Regions from separate parts of the Homo sapiens genome. Here regions 1, 2, 3 and 4 are each reported to be linked to region 5. Evidence: microRNA targets listed by miRTarBase, many of them from high-throughput screens and not tested one by one. Region 5 holds a microRNA gene; each other region holds the end of a gene's coding sequence.
Evidence for each region. Region 5 holds the annotated microRNA hsa-miR-1-3p (UGGAAUGUAAAGAAGUAUGUAU, at 2,151-2,172, opposite strand). A microRNA usually pairs through its seed, bases 2 to 8, with sites in the 3' UTR of a target mRNA and lowers its output. Matches are read on the target gene's strand: a 7mer-m8 pairs with bases 2 to 8, a 7mer-A1 pairs with bases 2 to 7 and ends in A, and an 8mer does both.

Region 1: miRTarBase lists RBM47 as a target of hsa-miR-1-3p. Seed matches in the 3' UTR shown: 7mer-A1 at 2,172-2,178 and 7mer-m8 at 513-519.
Region 2: miRTarBase lists HACD3 as a target of hsa-miR-1-3p. Seed matches in the 3' UTR shown: 7mer-m8 at 610-616, 8mer at 2,000-2,007 and 7mer-m8 at 2,093-2,099.
Region 3: the mRNA of SRGAP1 is a reported target of hsa-miR-1-3p. Seed matches in the 3' UTR shown: 7mer-A1 at 2,866-2,872.
Region 4: miRTarBase lists CEBPZ as a target of hsa-miR-1-3p. Seed matches in the 3' UTR shown: 8mer at 338-345.

What each region holds. Positions count from the first base shown.
Region 1 is chr4:40,423,491-40,426,490 of GRCh38, forward strand. RBM47 (RNA binding motif protein 47) reads right to left here. Exons shown (of 7, transcript NM_001098634.2): 7 at 1-2,653. The coding sequence ends at 2,414. It overlaps RBM47-AS1 (RBM47 antisense RNA 1), which reads left to right and starts at 2,643. Exons shown (of 2, transcript NR_199039.1): 1 at 2,643-2,692. RefSeq lists an enhancer at 1,932-3,000.
Region 2 is chr15:65,575,909-65,578,908 of GRCh38, forward strand. HACD3 (3-hydroxyacyl-CoA dehydratase 3) reads left to right here. Exons shown (of 11, transcript NM_016395.4): 11 at 395-2,441. The coding sequence ends at 471. INTS14 (integrator complex subunit 14) reads right to left here. Exons shown (of 12, transcript NM_001394796.1): 12 at 2,849-3,000. Among named protein-coding and RNA genes, the nearest start is that of INTS14, 34 kb to the right of the region's middle. RefSeq lists an enhancer at 2,966-3,000.
Region 3 is chr12:64,142,265-64,145,264 of GRCh38, forward strand. SRGAP1 (SLIT-ROBO Rho GTPase activating protein 1) reads left to right here. Exons shown (of 22, transcript NM_020762.4): 22 at 31-3,000. The coding sequence ends at 408. Among named protein-coding and RNA genes, the nearest start is that of KICS2, 79 kb to the right of the region's middle.
Region 4 is chr2:37,199,012-37,202,011 of GRCh38, reverse strand. It overlaps CEBPZ (CCAAT enhancer binding protein zeta), which reads left to right. Exons shown (of 16, transcript NM_005760.3): 16 at 109-400. The coding sequence ends at 248. CEBPZOS (CEBPZ opposite strand) reads right to left here. Exons shown (of 5, transcript NM_001322374.2): 2 at 2,193-2,308; 3 at 920-964; 4 at 286-370; 5 at 1-149. The coding sequence starts at 2,307. The coding sequence ends at 288. Among named protein-coding and RNA genes, the nearest start is that of CEBPZOS, 4.0 kb to the right of the region's middle.
Region 5 is chr18:21,826,865-21,830,015 of GRCh38, forward strand. MIR1-2 (microRNA 1-2) reads right to left here and starts at 2,224; the gene lies at 2,140-2,224. All of the region lies in intron 12 of MIB1 (MIB E3 ubiquitin protein ligase 1), which reads left to right. MIR133A1HG (MIR133A1 host gene) reads right to left here. Exons shown (of 3, transcript NR_110369.1): 3 at 1-2,588.

The sequences.
Region 1 (3,000 bases), not on the chromosome of region 5:
AACTTACCTCAGTAGTGTACATGAAATGGTTTTGAAACAATAGGAACAGATAAGTCCCAGATAGGAGGCTCACTGATACTTAATTGGCCATGTCACCAATGTTTGTTTTTAAGGGAGTTTGGTGGTTGCCATGTTATCATTTTTTTTTATTCTTTCTTTCTTTTTCTTTCTTTCTTTCTTTCTTTCTTTCTTTCTTTCTTTCTTTCTTTCTTTCTTTCTTTCTTTTCTTTCTTTTCTTTCTTCCTCTTCTTCTTCTTTTTTGCAAATAATTTACAGGCATATGTAAAATACAGTAAGAATACTGGGTCATAGTTTCATCCAGTGAAACTCTGTGACAATCCTTCACTAGAAGGAGAGTACTTTTTTCACACAGTCAGGGGATGAGGATCTGATCCGAATTACATTTTGTCGAGTCACTCATTCCCACAGATTTGAGTTTGAATGCAGCTTGTGGGGTACATCATCAGGAACATTGCACAATTATTTTATGTCATTTAAAAGAATGATGGAAAGGAATGTTAGCGGTGCTTAAAGGCCTCAGTAGGCACTCAATAATTTTATAGAATAGTTAAATAAATATTGCTTACACATAAAAACTCATCTCATTTCAAGATGAGGGGGAAAAAGGCATTTGGGAATCTCTTAATTTAAAACAAAACAAAAGTACTTGCTAAGGGCATGATCCTCTTATGAATCCACAAGAATTCAGCCATCAACAAAAATCCCGTGAGTGGAAAATTGTATGGATCTCTAACATGACATAAAAACGCAACTGCGTTTTACTTGCTACCTTATTGCACACCTCACTTCCTTGATTGAGCCTTTAAAAAACAATTCCAAGTTGATATTTTTTTTTAAAAAGTAGATGACAATCTTAACATTTTACTGTATTTTACATTCACTCTGCTAAACAAAAGCCTTTAAACAGGCACAAAACACTGCAACAATACATTAACTTCCTAATAAAACAAACCTTTTTAATAACATTGAAATAAAATGGTTTCATTTTGCATTAAACTACATACCATGAACTTCTCCAACATAAAAGGACTAAAAACAAGCATTAGAAGATATTTACAAACTATCTTTAAACTTCTACAGGTCTCTCCTCCTCCTCCTGGATGTGCACACCCCAATCCAGTTCACCCATCAAGTGCACAGCAAAGGAAGAGAGGCCCATTTAATAAACATAATGTTTCCAACACCCTTGAGGACCATGGACAGTTTTGCAAGAAACATGGTAAGGCAACTAGAAGCATAACTTTCTGCTGAAAAGAGTCTCTGGGGGTCTTGTCTACGATAACATACATTCTTTGTCCCTACAAACTCATACTTCAAAAATGAATAAAAGCATTAGAAATGGCATTAAAGTTTTACATTGGGCAATTAAATAGCTATGCAAAGGTGTCTTATGCAACTCGATTAAAACCTTGTGCTTACTCTGCTACTGAAAATAGCACACGTAGAAGACAATACTTCCCCAACCAAACAAAAAAAAAAACAAAAAACAACGAAACAACAAACCCCAACAAAAACCCAGGAAGAAGTATAAAAGCCACCAGCTCCTCTATCAGAGCTACTTATCAGTCCTAGGCTTGCCAAACATTGCGGTGGGATTGGGAATCTGGGGAGGAGGGGACAGGGTGAGAGATGTGGGAGTGGGGGCATGTTTAAGGCTAAGGCACATGGAGAATGAGCCCCGGCTAACGGTGGCAAAGGAGAGCTTTCCAGTGTTTGGACTCAGAAGTGCGGCAAGTCTTTTCAATGTTGGCTTAAGGAGAGATCCAGTGTTTAATTTCTTTTAAAAAATAGTACCGCCATGATGATACATGGTAACACCATCAACCCTTAATGCCAGCAGAAATACAGAGGTTTTACTCATTTTAAAATTGCACTTTCCAGTATAACCTTTAAAATAATGCTTTATGTAGTATTTTTAAGCACTACTGTTTGTATCTTTAAATATTGTATATATTTTTCAAAATAGTTCCCTAGCTCCTCAAGTGTGCTTTTTTAATATATAGTTGATATATTATTGAAGGTACTACAAAATAGAAATCTCTGGAGTGCAGAAGTTAAGAAAATAACCTTCATACTGAAAATATATCCTTAAAAAAACAACAACAAAAACCTCTATACAAATGTAGTACAGCATACAAATTTTTAAAAGATGGAATGAAGGCACGAACCATTGCAAGTCTTTTGGAAATGTATGAACGTAGGCATGCTAAGTTGAAAATAGTCTTAAAAAACTAGTGAAAACTTCATGTATATAAAATAATTCAGAAATAAATCTGCTAACATTCTTCACTTTCAGGTTGCATGTGTGAATCCAACATGTTCCTTCTTCATAAATAGTCAAGCGTTCCTTCAGTGGTGTTTGTGTGGTCTGTCTTCGTGCTGGTCACCAGCCTCAGTATGTCTGGTAGACGTCGGGGATGGGGACCTGAATGGCAGCAGCAGGGAAGGCCTGAGGTATGTAGCCTGCGTATCCTCCATACATGGCGGCCGCGGCTGCCGCGTTCTTCTGTAGTGTGGCGATCGTGGCTGTAGCTGGAGCAGCAAATGGCACGTAACTGGCCCCGTAGATCCCGGCAGTAGGAATTCTCTGAACGTTTGGAGCCACCGTGTATACTGGAGTTATTGGGCGGCCCTGAGGAGAAGAGACAAAAAGGAGCCTTCCTGAACACGTGTATGTACCTATCATCCATTCATTCAACAAGCCTCTCCCAGAAGACGGGAATACAAAGACACAAAAGCAAGGGAGAGAAAGGCAGAGGGGCGGGCAAACAGCAATTATTGTAAGCAAGTGGGAGAAGAGCCACTGAAGAGGTAAGGTGGAGCTGCATCCTCAAACTCAGTGATGCCACCTTGTGAAAGTGAGAGGCCTGGAAGGCTGAGGGAAAGGTGAAATACAGTTGCCCCTCAGTATCCTCACAGGTGATTGGCTCTAGGACCTCCGTGGATACCAAAATCCTCAGATGCTCGAGTCCCTGAGAG
Region 2 (3,000 bases), not on the chromosome of region 5:
ATGGTGAAACCCCACCTCTACTAAAAATACAAAAAATTAGCCAGGCATGGTGGTGGACGCCTGTAATCCCAGCTACTCAGGAGGCTGAGGCAGGAGGATTGCTTGAACCCAGGAGGCGGAGGTTGCAGTGAGCTGAGATTGTGCCACTGCACTCCAGCCTGGGTGACAGAATGAGACCCTGTCGCAATAAATAAATAAATAAACCCACTGGGGAAAAATTGCTTTGTGTCTATTGTATTGTTAATTTGTTCTAAATTGTACTCCTTCCTGAGCCGCTGCAATAAGCTTTTTGCTGTGGAATATGACGACAGCTAGATACTGTCCCTGCCACAAGAGCTTCTGGTTATAAATAGACAAAGACTCTAATTTCTAATTGACCTCTTTTCTTTTTCAGGTTTATACATAAATTTTCGTCACCTTTATAAACAGCGCAGACGGCGCTATGGACAAAAAAAGAAAAAGATCCACTAAAAAGAAAGATTTAGATGGCTTCTTGCCAGTTTGAGCCTAATCTGATTCTTACAGTTTTACCTTCTTGAACCAATGTAAAAGTTTTTTTAATGTTAAATGATTAAATTCTCAGTGAGGCTATCTTCCTTTTCCCCAGTAACATTCCTGAATTTACTGTTATCTTATTGTAGTACTTGCATGACATGGATTCCTGATATCTGATGAGAGGTTCATTCTTGTGTATTCAGTTAATGACACCAAAAGGCTCAGCCCACCCCAACCCTATCTCATGTTCAGTCTGTCTAATACATGCCAGAGATTTTTTTTTCAAAAAGTGCTTTATCCCTACAATGTACTGACAGTTCTTACAGTTGAGATTTGTTCTTTTCAGCTATTGCTTGTGAAAAAAAGCAAGACTATGTCACTCTATAGAAGGCTGTTAAAGTGACTCAGGCAGGAATTAATTATTCTGTACCTAAGGGGTTACTTGTTTAATGGGATGGCATTGACTTTTTGAAAATCAAGTGGACTGAGTCATTGATAAAACATTTCTAAGAGTGGGGCTAGAGAACATACTTTACATCTGACATCCTTTGGCCTAACAACATCTATTATTATAGTGCTCAGCAGTGTGGGCATTGAAGAGGCGCAGAATGCTTTGAAAGAAACTAATCAGAATCTTGGAACATCATGATCATGCCATTCTTAAGTAAATCAACTATTTTCAACACTGAAGAAAAATGAAACATTATTTAGAAAACAATGAGATTACAAGTTCCAAACTCAGCCAGGAATGTGGCTCACACCTGTAATCCCAGCACTTTGGGACACCTAGGTGGGAGCATCGCTTGAAGCCAGGAGTTCAAGACCAGCTTGGGCAACGTAGTGAGACCCCTATCTCTACAAAAAATAAAAAAATTAGCTGGGTGTGATGGCACACACCTGTTGTCCCAGCTACTCAAGAAGCTGAGATGGGAGGATCCTGAGCTCAGGAGGTCAAGGCTGCAGTGAGCCGAGATTGTGCCACTGCACTGCAGCTGGGGTGACAGTGCAAGACCCTGTCTCAAACCAAACCAAACCACACACACACAAACACACATACACACACACACACACGAGGTCCAAATGGTAGCAGGGATCCAAAGGGAACACAGTATGTAGGTCAAACTGGCAGTAACAGTGTACAGCCTTTGACAAACTAGAAATATTAGAGTAGGCCAAACACACCTCCAAACTGTAAGGCTGTGCACAAACATAAAAAATGGCAGCCTTCCATCTCCTGCACTGGCTGAGTCCATTTACTTGTGTACTTGTTCTAGTGAGTGGTGGGACTGTACATTTTTGAATAGACCTCAAAAATACTTCATTCTGCTGCTGTTCAGTTGGCTTTTTAAACCTGTCTGCAGTAGGACACTGAAAACAGCAAGAACTTCGGGGTGAACACCCGCTGATCCTTTAACAAGGATTTCTGGCAGGAAACTCACAAAAAGGAGAACTGAAAATTTAGACATACAGTTGGCCATTGTAAAAAACATCAGTTTCCTCTCATACATTCCAAGTAAACCAAGTAAAATAAGTGTTGGAGTAACACTTGCATAAAAGAATTTAAGGAGTGATAGCTCTTTCTGTTCTGCCATTCCCAACATTCCTGGGGGAAAGGAGACTCAATGAGTTAATACTATTTCACTGAGCCCAAGATGGAAACTTGGTTTGACCTAAAACATCTGATTAATATAGGCTAGCTGATTTCTTAAAAATTCGTTGCATTGAAGGATATTTTGCATGTCTGTAACACCTGTCAATACTTGTTTGTATTGATTTCTGATATTCTTGCAGCTGACTACGTGTAATTGGGCAGATCAGCTTTGCAGTAGATTATGCTGCATCCTCGTGGCAAAATTCTGTATTCTTAGTGATTGTTACAAACCCCTTTATTGCTGTCTGAGAAAGTGAAAGATTGTGTATTTCTATTAAAACATTTACAATCAAAATTCTAATGACTGTGCTTAAAGATAATTTAGTCTAATGGTTCTCTGTTAGTGATAAAGACCTTTGTTCAGGCAAAATATTATGTAGCAGTTCAGCATGTTAAACCAAAAACAGTTGCTCTGGTTGAAGCCTGAGAGTTACATGGAAGGTGGTGCAAATGAAAAACACTGATGATGCAGACAAAGCCTTGAGAAGTTGCCCAAAGTCATAAAGCTAGCTGATAAATTGGAACCATAATTAACTTTGGAATCGGATCGGTGATCTGTCAGGATTACCTAGCCAGAACCTTGCTTAGGCAATGAGGCCTAATCAGTGTCAGAAATAAGGAAACCTCATGATTTATGAATCTATGCCACTTAGAAAGTTGAAATTATATTAAAGTGATAAGACAGACCAAAAGCAAACGACCTTTAGTTTCATAGTGAAACCATTTTCTAGAAAATCAAATATTTTATTTTCATTAAAAAAAAACCTTGAATAATAGGAATCATTTTACACATTAATGGTTGCTCTTTAAAAGTTAGAATCTCAAGAGATACCAAAAGCACTTAAGAGTTACCA
Region 3 (3,000 bases), not on the chromosome of region 5:
CTTTCTCTCTTTCCGATTATTCTTCAATAGGATATTGAAGAAACGATGAACACAGCTTTGAATGAACTCCGAGAACTGGAGAGACAGAGCACAGCAAAGCATGCCCCTGATGTGGTGCTGGATACCCTGGAGCAAGTGAAAAACTCTCCCACCCCTGCCACTTCCACGGAATCTCTCAGCCCTTTGCACAACGTTGCCCTCAGGAGCTCCGAGCCTCAGATTCGACGTAGCACGAGCTCCTCCAGTGACACAATGAGTACTTTCAAGCCTATGGTGGCACCCAGAATGGGCGTGCAGCTGAAGCCTCCAGCCCTTAGGCCAAAACCTGCTGTTCTTCCAAAAACAAATCCTACCATAGGACCTGCCCCACCTCCCCAGGGTCCAACAGACAAGTCATGCACAATGTAAAAACCAGCCAAGCAAGGCCATAAAGGGAGGTGACTTAAAAAAGAAAATGGATTAGTGACAAAAGTCACTGATCCATAACTTTCCTTAGTTTTGTGCTTATAACTGGAGATCTTTTGGCTTTTCTATGTTGTCGAATGTAATGTCTGAGACTAGCTAAATTAACACGGGCATTTGTATTTTGTAATTTTTTTAAATAACTGGACATATGTCATTTTAAGGACAATAGAAACACTTAGACTTACTTGAAAATCCAATGCTGCACCACTTGTAATGAAGGCAACACCGCTCTCCACATTGTACAGAGCTTCAGGTTTAATGTAGCCCAGCTGAGTCAGAAAGGTTGTGACCTGAAGGCAGAAGAACCCGAATGCCACACCTCATTGGAGTATAGCCAGTGTTGGTCTGTGGCACTTGGGCTGAAAGGTGATAATGGCATTGCGTGGTAGCTGACAATGAGCACCTTCGGTTCCATGTGGAGCGGGGTTTAGCTCATGCAAAAGACTTGCAATTGTCTCCATGGGACGATCCCAGTGGGACTGTCAGCCCACAGCTCGAGTGGGTTGGATGCTTGCCTCTTTCCTAACAGTTATTTCCCCGGGTCCAGCTTAAAGACTCGATGGAAGGAGGTAGAACCTCTGCTGTTACTGCTTGAACTTAACCTGGGAAAGGAGAGGAAGACACCATCTCCAAAGCTATTAATGTCACTCCTTTTGCGAGCATGATTAGGCCCCGGAGATTTCCAAGTCCCCCCATCTACACTTACAAACGATTAGAAGGGTTTAATTTTAAAGACTTTCTGGTTACACTACTCCACGAACTCCTCCAAAGATCCGTTATTCAATAACTGCCTAGAAAATGTTTCCATCTCCTCTAAATCCCTGTGTTCTCCTCTGTGGAAATGAAGGCAGCAAGAAGCACCTGAGGCCTTGGTTCATGCAGTGTTCTCTTTTGACTAAATCACCTAGGTTCCTTTAAACATGCTACAAAGCCCAGGCATGGTGGTGCACACCTGTACTCCCAGCTACTCGGGTGGTTTACACAGGAGGATGGCTTTGGGCCTAGTAGTTCGAGTCCAGCCTGGGCAGCATAGTGTGAGACCCTGTCTCTTAAAAAAAAAAAAAATGCTACAAAGTCCTGATGATCCTAAATTTGAAATCCCAACTGTCCTCTCCATTTGTCTTTGAGCCAACCCTGAACTGGCCCTGGTACCTGAGTAAGAGCCATGCAGGGCCATCAGCAGAACATGGCCTTGTGGTTCTCACCCAGTTGTGTACCTCACAACCACAACTTCTTTTTCTTTGTCCCTTTTCCCCTTTTTGGTTTTGGTTTTGTATGTGGGCTCTATGTAACTCCCATAGTCAGCTGAACTCTCAATTGGAGACCCTCTTTCTCTGGCATCCTAGCACACAGGCAATTTTTTAAGCCTATATTTATGCTACATTTTCCCCCATCTTAAGAAAATTTGCTTTGATTTCCATTCTCCTACTAGCAGCAGCTGATATCACCTGTAGACCTATGAGCATTTTATCTATTCTATCATTGAAGTTACTGATAAAGATTTTTGTTGTTGTTGTTGTTGTTGGGAGAAATGGATTTCCCACAACTAATCCCTCTGGCCCACCATTAATTTCCTTCTTGGTTTCATTTCAAACTGGCAGCCAATTGCACGCCCATCTAAGAGCTACACAGTGTAGATTTTACTTCATCAGCCCATTGGTGAATGCATCGTGCAGAAAAGAACTGGGATCTGTACTAAAATCAAGATCATTACTTTGATCTCTACCTCAGTTTGCCAGTGTAGTCATTCTATTGCAGGAAGAGATTAAATTGATGAGATATTGTTACTTTCAGAGTCACACTGCTGATTGCTTGCCTGGGGCCTAATTTCACAAATGAATAGTGACTTTTTTCCCATGTATTTCTAGGTATGGTAAACTTTTAAACCTCCAAATTTTCAGAGCCATACTTTTTGCCCATTTTGAAAAAGAAGCCCAGGACAGCACCTTGTCTAGCCCCTCCCCATTTCTCCTGAGCTTTTGGGGTCCTTCAGCACCCTTGGACACCGTGGAGATCCAGCCAAGACTGAGCTTTGAATAGCACTAGCCCTTTTAAACAATCCTCACAAATTCCTTAGGAATTTAAACTTTCCAAAATAATCCCCCACTTTTTTTTTTTTTTTTTTTTTTTTTTGAGTTGGAGTCTTGCTCTGTCGCCCAGGCCAGAGTACAGTGGTGCAATCTCGGCTCCCTGCAACCTCCATCTCCCGGGTTCAAGCAATTCTCCTGAGTAGCTGGGATTACAGGCGCCACCACCACGCCCAGCTAATTTTTGTATTTTTAGTAGAGATGGGGTGTCACCATGTTGGCCAGGCTGGTCTCAAACTCCTGACCTCAGGTGACCCACCAGCCTCAGCCTCCCAAAGTGCTGGGATTACAGATGTGAGCCACCATGCCCGGCCATTCCACCACTTCTTTAAAATAGTAAGAATTCTTAAAAACCATATTCCTTGTTTGATGGAAGAGTAAGATGTTAACAGAGGGCATCAAAGGGCCAGAGGTGTCTTTGAATTTATTTTTTTTCAATGTCTTTTCT
Region 4 (3,000 bases), not on the chromosome of region 5:
CACAGGCCAAGGCAGGCTAGAAGTTCCTGTGACTCAGCAGCATGTTCTGTGGGACCACCAAGAGTCTACAGTGTGGTAGTACACTCATCTTTTCTTCTTCTCTCAAAGGTCTCAAACAGCTTAGATGGGAGGCTGAACGTGATGACTGGCTACACAACAGAGATGCAAAAAGTATCATCAAGAAAAAGAAACATTTTAAAAAGAAGAGGATTAAAACCACTCAAAAAACTAAAAAACAAAGGAAATGAGTTATTAATGTAAATTATAGATTAAAATTCTACTTACATCTAATTTTTGCTGTTCAACCATGTTTTTTGATCTAGCTCTCTGATTCCATACATTCCAGACTTCTCAGTGGATTTGTAATAAACTATAAATAAAAATAGCTCTCATTTATAAAGTCATGTGGAAGCATTGTTAAAATTAAATGTATTGAAAAAAACAACTTCTTTTTTCCATATTGCTACATAACAAAATGAAAAAGAGGACAGTAGGATTACAGACTTCACATATAAGTCCTGGCATCTCTGATCATTGTAATGAGCACTATTTCGTCTAACTACATGATGTCATCTTGTTCAGTCTTTATCTACTTGACAGAGAAAGAGACAGCTCCAAGAAGTTAGCAAACCTGAGATGAAACTGATCTTTTAAAACCAAAGGTTTAAACTGTGGTTTGATTCTATCACCTCATATATGAATGATTCCAGAGTTTACATTCTTAACCACTAGAAGAATTCAGAATCCAGCCCATTACCTAATTCTCCTCTCACTAGAATAGATGAGAATTTAGTCTCAGAAGAACTAAAATACATGTGAATAGTATTGTTAGAAATTCCTTGTAAAGAAATTACTACATAATTTATAGGTTACCTGAAGAAGTTGTTTTATACTTATTTTTACTTAAGGAAAAACATACCTTCCAAGATGAAGGGATATTTCTTGCTCATTGTTTGCCTGAAATCTGATGGAAAAAAGGATGTCTTGAAATTAGATATGAACAGAAATTCATTATATTAACACAGCCACAATTTAATGCTAGCTTTAGGGTCCATATGATGGGAACCATATAGATTAGAAATTTGTTTGAAGGTCTTTCTGGTAATCCAGGAACGATCTCCTTTTGTTTTTTTGAGTCAGGATCTCTCTCCCTGTTGCCCAGGCTGCAGTACAGTGGCACAGTCACAATCCACCACTGCCTAGACCCCCCTGGGCTGGGCTCAAGCGAGCCTCCTACGTCAGCCAAGGTCAAGTAGCTGGGATGGGGCTCAGGGGAGCCTCCTACCTCAACCTCCCGAGTAGCTGGGACTACAGGAGCACACCATCATGCCCAGCACTTTTTTTTTTTTTCTTAAGATACAGTGTCTTGTTATGTTTAGCCCAGACTGAGCTCAAGCAGTCCTTCCACCTTGGCCTCCCGAAGTGCTGGAATTACAAGTGCAAGCCATCACACCCAGCCATGACACTTTTTAAAACTGATCCCAAGCTTTAATTTGTTTTTAAATACTGTTGGGATGTTTTTTTAATACCCTTCCTTAGAGTTTAAAAGAAAAGGGATTTTTTGAGTATCCAGTAGCATCTTGGTACAGCGTTCCAACCAAGTATGCTGAGGAAGACTGTGGCAAGTTTCAAAGATGGCTATCATGCCAGGTCTATTCCCTGTTTTAGGGAAAAATCACTTCCTAATTTAAAAAGTTGAGAGCTCTAATATAAAATTTCCCCAAGAAAAATGTTAAAGCACTTTCGGCCATAGCATGTGAAAGTCTTAGTGCCCACTGTTGATGCCCAGGAAGAATACTATAGCCTGAGAAAACTGGTTACTCAGAAAACAGCAATACCAGTTACTTTCTTAGTCTACCAAACAATGAAGTATAATGGGCAGGCTAAGTTTCCTCCATCTGTGCTCCCAAACTAAGCCAGACCAAGGACACTTGCTATATCCTCCACAATAGTAAAATCCATGGAGGTATGAAATTTTTTCCTTAGCCCACAAACAACATTTTTAAGGGAGAAGTGAGAGTGATCTAGTCCACAATAATGAATACTTTGATTCCTGTTCTGCCCCTAAAAATGTCTAATATCTTGAATCTGAAGAACCAATTTCTCCAAACATGCCATTGCCATTTAACACATAAAATGGATTAGCAAAACTATACCCCTTTAGAAAGCATTAACTTCTGAATTATGATTACCTTGGCTTGTGTGCATCTTGCTAAACAAAAAATATGCTCCAAAAACGCCTACAAGTTCGGCTACCAAAACTCCTTTAAAGATCTTCTTTGCTAGTGGTTCCAAAGTACGGGCCATCCTAAATTTAACAACAGATATGTGTAAACCTGAATGAACATACTTAAACTACTATTATCATTTCTCTAATAACTCAAATTCATTCCCACAGTTTGAATGGCTTCTCTGTATGGGAGTAAGACCAATACTATGGTATACTTTTTTGGTTTAGACATCCTATCTACCTAGTTTTCAAACTCCATGCCTGAGGGGCATGATGAACCAAAGACAAAATTGGATAAAGCACAGGAAAGAGAGAAAATGCAAGAAAGCGTTGTAAAAAGAACAATTTACGGAACTAAAATTATTTAATTGTGTAGGAAAACAGAATGGGGAAGATAATTTTTTAGCTGCACTGGGAGTTAAGAAATAATCTAAATGGATACAATATATAAACAGCTCTTTGTAAAGTGCCGTACAAAAGTAAGATCTTTCTCAAGTGGTTCTACACTTTCTAAAGGGCTGGAGTTCTTCATTTATTAATACAACATACACTATTACATATACTATATATTATAGATAGTATAGATATCCTATATACTGATACATACTAATAATACAACATATACTAAACTATTAATACAACATATACTAAACTGTGCCATAGTTCAGGCATTTGGAGTGCAGTGGCACAATCTCAGCTCACTGGGCTCAAACAATCCTCCCACCTCAGCCTCCCGAGCAGCTGGGACCACTGGCATGCCTGGCTATTTT
Region 5 (3,151 bases):
GTAAGTATCATACTGCTGGTGAAATTAACTACAATTCTTTTTCATCATTTTTTCTAGTAGAAGTGAAACAGGTGTTAAACTGCCTAAACTTAAGTGCTGAAGATAGCAATAATACTGGCTTCTATTTTTACTAGTTATATGGGAGCTGTTTAGCAGATCCAGTTGCTCAAGTGTGTTTTTGGATGGCAGTTCAGTTTCATATACTGGCCATATCGGGGCAAGGAGAGGCCATGGGAAAAAAATAGTACAGCATTTGATAATGTCAGCATCTGTTATCCCTGTCAGGGAGACAGTTGAAATGTTTGAGTTATACCAGTGTCAGCAGATGCCCAGAGTTTAATATGTACTCAGTTAAAAATGAACAGCTGATCTAAGTGATAGATGTGACATTTTAGAGTGATTGAAAATACTCTTAGATAAGTTAAACTCGCAAGCACCAGAATCAGCATATAATTTTACTTTTAAAAATGAATAGCCTGTCATTTTATTTTCTAAGGATTATTTATATAGTCTTAATATTATAGCAAAGAGAGTCTTAGTTGCTAGGATGTTTGAGAAGGATTATTAAACAACTTGTATACCTATAGAATGACCAATATAACTGTTTATTATAAAACACAAGTAGAGTAATAAGCTTTGAGTATTTTTATAGAAGAACCTCTACTTTTGAGGTATATATTTTGAGTTCTTGGTATTTAGGACCTATACAGGTAAACTTACCAAATAGAACATGAATCATTGCCATTCTGTTTTGTGGATGATCAGAAGGGCTATGCTTATGTGAGTTAAGCTTTGAACTAATTTCTTTGAAAGTGTAGAATTTTAAAATTATGTGCCTTTTATAATTTCCAGTAAACATGCAGTAACACATATGATGCCATGTGTAAGTCATTCTCATTCTTTATAATCTGATAAAATGAAAATCATCTTTGTATTAACTAGTCTTATTAAACAGAAAATGAACTATAGTTAAACTTAGTCATTTCCATTCAATTTCTGATACAAAAAATTTAAAATATTATGCTTTTATACATGTGTAAATATTTCAGTTGAAATAATACTTTTAGTAAGAAATGGTTAGAATATGTGAATATTACTCTTATTTTCTAACTTTGTCATTAGTAGCTTAAAACAGGTACTGCTTATAAATTTTGCTAAGAGCATTATTTGGAATTTTTTATAAATAATATACAAACTGTGTGAAATAAAAGTATTTTGATATTTCTAAACAATGGATTGATCAAGTTTAGAGAAATTGAATTGTAATTGCATAGTACAATAAAAACAGTTCTTCGATCTGTATAAATTGGTTCTTGACTATAGTGCTTTCATTTTACATGCCCTCTTTGGAGAAAGCAAATTCGAAGATAATACAGATAAATTAATTTCTTTTAAATATTTGGTAGTCTGTTACCAATATACCCTGCTGACTTACAGCTGTGGACCAGAATTTTGTCATTTTTCATGCTTAAATCTTACATTTTAATTAATTTTAAGTTTTAACTTCACATTTAAAGTAGAGATTTGGGTTAAGACCCTGATAAACTTGAGAAGGAAGGACAAGGGCCACTATGTTTGTAGCTGTCAAAAAAGAAAGCCTTTTTAAAACAACAAAACTTTTGGTCAGAAATTCCTCTAATATTAATTATACATTTATCAAAATGAGAAGAAATAGCTTATTATGTGAATGAAGCCAGCTCTTAGTATCTTATTTTTCTGTACAAATCAGTGAGCCCTACTAATGAGATATACTTAAGATTAAATTGTGGAGACAGAAAATAGGTCATGTGTATTCCTCATTCTTTTGTGCTAGTAATACTATTTTCCCTTTTGCAGTCAAATTTTAATAATGAGAGTGCCTAATTTAAAAATGTAAGATGTCTGTTTTAAACTTAGATGATTTAAAAGGAGTTTCATGATAATTGAAATCTACTTCACTGGATCTTCTTTTCCTTCATGAAATAAAAACCTTAGGGATAGTTTCTATCTATCAGTAGTAGATAACCTTTTTTTTTTGGTGTTAGTATTGCCAAAGGTCATCTGTTCATGACTAGGTTAATTTACCATATGACGGTCATTCACGTAGAAAGAAGCAAGAGCTTCTTTTAGCTCAGTTTAATTCTCCCTTGGTGGTTTATTGCCTACCAAAAATACATACTTCTTTACATTCCATAGCATTGTATGTTCATATGGGTACATAAAGAAGTATGTACTCTGAGTAGGTATTACTAAGTTGTTAGCTGTAAAAACATGAAATATTTTATTTTCTTATTTGTTAGTGAAACATTCAGCTTACTAATGTAGAGCAATGGTAAATCATTTGCAGAGACTAATTTATCGAAGACTAAATTTTGTAACAAGTTTACCTGAAGCATGGCATTAATGGTTCCATATTCTTGGTGGACATAGACATTCCTAAGCATTTGACCAGTTATCTGTTGAACTTTGTCCTGGTTTGATTCTTTTTGCAAGAGATTCAAAGAATCAGTGTAGTGTTACAGAGTGTATTTCGGAAACTTAAGATCAGCCTAGTGTTTCTTCAGTCTTCAGAGTGAATTTCTTCTTTTTTTGTAGTCTGCTTCTAGATCCTACAGGTAGATAGTAATTAATTAAATTCAATTTTTTTTTTACAAACTAGATATCTTACTCAAAACCTAACAAATTAACCAATAAGTATTTCTGATATTGACTCTAGAAGTTGAAACAACAAGGAGAAAAACCAGGATGAGTGTGGGTGAATTGAACTTTTTTAAAGATTATGAATTTTTGTTAGTGTTTTATAAGGTCACAGATAAGAACTCGTGATCATTTGAAAATTTGTCATTCTTTTTTCTTTATTAGTTCCTTACCTGAAGTTTGCACTTTGATGCTTCTCTTTGGGTTAAATACAAATATGAGTTGAATACAAATTCAAATAGATGTAGAAATATCTAATTTTGGTGAGTTTAAGTTGTTTTGATTCTTTAATCTTTTTAGTATAAAGGATAACTGTCAGAATCGTCAACTTTTAGAAAGTATCACTTCAAAGAACTGAAAGGTTTTAGTCTGTGAGCACCTGGGTTTTATTTACCTTGATAGTTTAGAATGAAAAGAAATTATAGTTGGTAAGTAGCCTTCAGTTATTGTGGTATTAGAAGGTTAATTTAAAACC